2 separate regions of the Homo sapiens genome follow, and region 2 is linked to region 1. The links come from fine-mapping of genetic effects on gene expression. Tissue or cell type: whole blood. Region 1 holds a variant in brackets; the other region holds the start of a gene. All regions are shown on one strand. Distances are between the middles of the regions.

Evidence for each region. PIP is the estimated chance that this variant, and not a neighbour inherited with it, causes the effect.
Region 2: TUFM starts here. The variant in region 1 is fine-mapped to the expression of TUFM in whole blood (TOPMed, PIP above 0.99).

What each region holds. Positions count from the first base shown.
Region 1 is chr16:28,822,606-28,825,358 of GRCh38, forward strand. It overlaps ATXN2L (ataxin 2 like), which reads left to right and starts at 394. Exons shown (of 22, transcript NM_007245.4): 1 at 394-953. The coding sequence starts at 655. It overlaps LOC124903672 (a long non-coding RNA gene), which reads right to left and starts at 1,437. Exons shown (of 2, transcript XR_007065042.1): 1 at 1,289-1,437. RefSeq lists enhancers at 1-409, 1-130 and a silencer at 451-1,600. The variant C/T (reference allele first, on the strand shown) is at 1,513.
Region 2 is chr16:28,844,976-28,847,590 of GRCh38, forward strand. TUFM (Tu translation elongation factor, mitochondrial) reads right to left here and starts at 1,373. Exons shown (of 10, transcript NM_003321.5): 1 at 1,243-1,373; 2 at 937-1,131; 3 at 339-505; 4 at 1-80. The coding sequence starts at 1,294. It also overlaps a transcript of SH2B1 not described here. RefSeq lists an enhancer at 1,235-1,724.

The DNA.
Region 1 (2,753 bases):
GCCTCACGCACGACGTGCCGCCTCACACTCCCGCGGAGGCATCGCGACGCAGCGACGGCGTGGGCGGAGAGGCCGGCCCTTCCTCTGGCGCCTTCGGCTCCTCCCCCTGCGCCTCACACGCTCATTGTGAAGCGACAGCGGCCGCCGGCTTCTAAGGCGGTTTGAGACCTTAAGACCCTAAATCCTTGGCGCGCGTGAGCGCCCGCGCCGCTCCTTACCCACTCCCAGGGCTAGGGGTGCGAGGTTCACCGACTTGATTCTCTCCCACTTTCCCGCCGGGAGCTAACCGCGCCGGTGTGCGCGGCACCTCGCGCCACTGCTCGCTCCTGGCCCCCCCCCCCCCCCCCCCCCCCCGGGAGCTCCCACCCGCGCGCTCCTCCCTCTCCGCTCCCCGGCGACGCGCACGCGCGCCAGCCCGGCTCGCGCCCTCTCGCTTTCCTCCAGCCGCGAGACCCCCTCCCCTTCCGCCTCGCGGCGCTTCCTCGCGCCGCGGTCTTCTCTCTCCACCCCCGACACCGCGGGGCTCCCCCCGCCCGCCCACGGCGGGCCCCGGCTGCCCGATCCCCCTCGCTTCCCGCGCTCTCCAGCGGGGCCCCAGCCCCGGCCCCCTCTCTCCCTCCCTTCTCTCTAATTCCCCTTCCGGACGCTGCCATCATGTTGAAGCCTCAGCCGCTACAACAGCCCTCCCAGCCCCAGCAGCCGCCCCCCACGCAACAGGCCGTGGCCCGTCGGCCCCCCGGGGGCACCAGCCCTCCCAACGGCGGCCTCCCGGGGCCGCTGGCCACCTCTGCGGCTCCTCCCGGGCCTCCAGCGGCCGCCTCCCCCTGCCTGGGGCCTGTGGCCGCTGCCGGGAGCGGGCTCCGCCGGGGAGCCGAAGGCATCTTGGCGCCGCAGCCGCCGCCGCCGCAGCAACACCAGGAGAGGCCGGGGGCAGCCGCCATCGGCAGCGCCAGGTGAGAAGGGTGGGCTCCGGGCGAGGGAGCCGCGGCCACCCAGAGGCTGTGGCTCGGTTCCGGTGGGGCGGACCCCGACCCGGCACCGTCAGGGGCACCGGCTGGGTGGGGAGTCCCCGTGAAGCTGGGGGAGGGCCCCCTCAGGTCCGAACAGGTCGGACGGAAAGGGTCCCCGGGCGGCCACCGGAGCACTGAGGGGCCGCGCTCGGCTCTCGGGGCCTAGTCAGGGCTCGCAGCCCCGGCCTTCAGGGGAGGCGGGGCGCATCCCGCCGGCGCCGTCGGAACGGGGAGTTGGGGGGGGGCAAGGAGCTGATCGGGGTCCCCGGTTCCATTACCACGAAGGGTCTCGCGGTCCCCGGCTTCAGCCAATGGGGAGTCTGCTGCGGGAAGGGGTCCCCGGCCGTAGCCAATGGAGGGGGGCGCGCGGCCCACAGTTTGGCCAATGGGGAGGGAGGGACTTGGGAGCGGGTTGCTGCCTCCCCCTTCCCGGTCTGGCCAGTAGGAGGGGAGCGAGGTGGGCGGGGGGACGGAAGGAGGGATGACTGGGAGGACTGCGGGC[C/T]GGGAGCCTCTGGCGCGCGCGCCCCCTTCCCGTACGTGCGCGTGGATGCTCGGTCTCATGACCCGGGCATTCGCGCGCCCCGGGAACACCTAGGGCAGGGACTAGTTCGTGGAGGGGCTCGTCTGGTGGCAGTGCATGAGTAGTGGAGGCCCTGCTCAGTTTTTCCTGTGCGAGTGTGTGTGTGTTAATGGAATTAAGAGTGGCAGCACACGCAGGCGCAGTGGGCTCTGATCGCTGGAGGTGGGGGTTCGGAAAGTCCCGTGGGTTTTAGTGCGCAGGCGCAGACCGGGCGAGGCCTCCCGGTGGATGGCTTTTGCGGCTGCGCTGTCCCCCAGCCCCGCCAGCGGCCCCCTCTTCGCCCTCAACCGCCGGTTACATCAGCCAGCGACGAGCAGGGTTACCTGGCGATTGGTGATCCCCGCAGAGTGGGTAACGGGCTGAATGAGTCATGAGGTCGAGGGGATGGGGTGTGGAGGGGATACCCCTCCTCCCACAGTTTTGAGGCGTCAGGCTGCTGAAAATGATTGTCTTTTCTGTTTGGGAGGTAATGTACCTGAGCTAGGTAGTTCCAAAGCTGCACTCCTGGAGCTTTTGCCCTCACAGCTGGCGTGGCTTTTTGGTTAATACTGTAGCATTGATCTGTTGGTAGCCTGCAGCCCTAGCCCCTTTCTCGTTGGTTCTTAGAGCAATTGACAACCATTGTTGATTGAGATCTTTTTGCTGGCATTTGGAGGAAATGTGTTTGCTGGCTTATTAATGTCTATTTTTTTCTTCCTCTACAAGGTGACAGTTTGAAAATCTTATTTATTGGCCGGGCGCAGTGGCTCACGCCTGTAATGCCAGCACTTTAGGAGGCAAAGGTGGGAGGATCCCTTGAGCCCAAGGAGATCGATACCAGCCTGGGCAACACAGATGGGAAATCCCATCTCTACTAAAAATTAAAAAAAAAAAAAGCCAGGAGTGGTGGTTCGTACCTATAGTCTCAGCCACTCGGGAGGCTGAGGCAGGAAGATCACTTGAGCCTTGGAGGTTGAGGCTACAGTGAACTGAGATCACGCCACTGCACCCCAGCCTGGGCAACAGAGGGAGACCCTGTCTCAAAAAAAATAGAAAAATCTTACTGATTAACAATTTTGTAGTCTAAATCAGCATCATCAGGTGGTATATACTTCTAGGATTTAACATTAATTTCATAGTGGTCTAAGAGGGCTTGAACAGACTTAAGTAATTTCTTGTTTTCT
Region 2 (2,615 bases), 22 kb after region 1:
CGGGTCTGGGGCATGGGGCCGTCATTGGCTGCTACCACCAGGATGCAGCCGTCGAGGGGTGCAGTGCCTGTGATCATATTCTGGAGAGGAGAAGGAAAGGAAACAGCCAAGTTCAACGAGCTCTTCAGTTCACATCCATATAGCCAAGTGTAGCAGTTAGAAACTCAGGCCCACCTTTCTCTACCATCTCCTCACCACCCATTCTGCGTGGCCAAGACCACAAACCTGCCATCTCATACCCAAACACTGAATATCTTAATCTCCTCCCCACAAGCCTAACATTTATCCTGACAAGAGGCAGCTTCTGGCCCTGTCTCCAGTGTCCCAGCAACCCTCACCTTAACATAATCTGCATGACCCGGGCAGTCTGTGTGGGCGTAGTGGCGGGCGGCAGTGCTATACTCCACATGAGCCGCATTGATGGTGATACCCCGAGCTCGCTCCTCCGGGGCATTGTCAATCTCCTCGTACTTCTTGAACTTAGCCCCACCTCCCTCAGCTAGAACTAAAGGAGGAAAAGAACACACCTCTCAGCTAAAGTTCCAGTGCTAGAGGCAGAGCTTAGACCACGCCCCTGAACCCTCCCACCTAAATACATAACCTCCTCCAATCTCTAACTCTTCCAGCAGAGAGAACTGTGGGTCAGAAAGAAATGTTAGAGGGCCTTAAGGGTCTGCCCTGTGACTTCTTTAGGGTACAGCCTCTGCTTGCAGAGCATTCCCCACGACTTTGTGATCCCCAAGCCATTGGTGGATCACAAAGTTCTTCCTGTTCAGGAGAAATTTGTCTCTTGCATCTCCCAATCCACCTGTCGCACAAATTCGGGCTCTTGGGGCCACAGTAAACTCCTCCAGCAGACACTCTGCTGGCCTTGCCTCCCTGGCTCCAGGTCCCATCAGTAGATAGGGCGCTGCTGGACGCCCCAACCCCACTCACTCTTCGTGATGGCTGCAGTCAGCGTGGTCTTCCCGTGGTCCACATGGCCGATGGTACCCACATTCACATGTGGCTTGTCGCGCACGTAAGTCTTCTTGGCCTCCACGGCCAGGCCGCGGCACAAGAGAGGCAATGCCGGGGCTTTCAGCAGCCGCAACAGACCCTGCAGCAGGAAGGTCCGGCCGGCGGCGAGACCTGCCGGGACCGAAGCTTGGAGTCAGGCAGGGAAGGGGTCAGACCGAACCCAGCCACCTACCACTCCCCCAAAGTGTTCCTGGGCCGCCATCGCCCTCCCTGACCACTCACCGCTGAAGTGGGGCGTCGCGCGCAGCAGGGTGGCGGCCGCCATTGTGGTCATACTCGCGCCCCGGTAACCGGGGAGCCGGGACCAGGAGCCCGAGCGCACAGAAGAAGAAGGGCGCCTGCGGCTGGAAGGCACTTCCGGCGGAAGTTAGAGCTGGGAGGGCAAGTCCGGGCCCCTCTAGCCGCCAGTGTCTATGGCCGTCTCAGCCGACGTCGGGCGCGCGGCTGAAGACGTCATGGAGGGGGCTGGTGTCTCGAGGGCGGAGTATGATGGAGAGGTTTTCCACCACTCGCGCCTCTCGGGCTGAGGGGCAACGTAGTTCTCTCTGGCGGTCGCAGGGGGCACTGAGGAGCGTCCCCTAAATCACCGGCGCCGCGAAGGCTCATGGGCGTAGTAGTTCTCAGGTCGGCGGGCTGTGGAGGTGATCAGAGTGGGAGTCAGGCGGGCTAGGCCGGACCCGGAGGGAGGGGCTCGGGCTCCGGGAGGCAGCTGCGGCTCCGACTGCTCAGGAACCTCCTCCTGGGCCCGGCAGAGAGAGACCCCGAGTCCCCCGGAGTCCGACTCGCTACGCGGGTCTTGCGAGATATCTGGCCGCCTCTGCCGCAGCTGGAGGTAGGGGACCAGGTCCTGGACGCCTTTCGGGGATGGGGTGAAGTGTGACCTCCCTCTTCGCTGAGACTTTGTTTTCTAATCTGTAAAATGGGAATAGTAGTATCCACTTCATAGGGAGAGCCTGACATCTAGCCCTGAGAGGAGATGAACTGGGTAGGAGTCAGTGTTGGGCCCTGTGAGGTCAGGCAGCTTGCGGGGACCCTGTACTGCTAGACCTCACAGGGCCAGAGCCCACAAGACAGACAGCTTCGCTGCCCACCCCTGTAGTCCCTCAGCAGCCTAAGGAGCAGTTCCGTTGGGCATCGCCCCACCCATCTAATTTTGCAGATGAGGAGCCAAGGATGAGGAGCCAGCTAGGGGAGCCTTTAAGGGGAGCCTGAGTCTCCTTTAATCTGTCGGTGTCCCCAGCACCTAACAGGGTGGAGCATGCAGTGAATGTTGAATGAATGGGTGCAAGGGTAGTCAATGTCCCTTAACTTTCACATCCATCATCTCATGGCAGCTTCCACAGGGCACTCCAAAGTGTTAATTATGGCTGCTTAACCCTGGCTAATGTTTCGGAACTCATCAGATCCTGAGACTCAGTGGACAGTGTTTGTTTCAAATAGATTCCCTAATTCCTCCCCTGGAGGTTATGATTCCGTGGGGTCTATGCACAGACTGGGAAGCTATATAACAAACACTCTTCTAAAACTGAGAAGAGGCTGGGCACGGTGGCTATAGTGCCAGCCTATAGTCCCAGCAGTTTGGGAGGCTGAGGTGG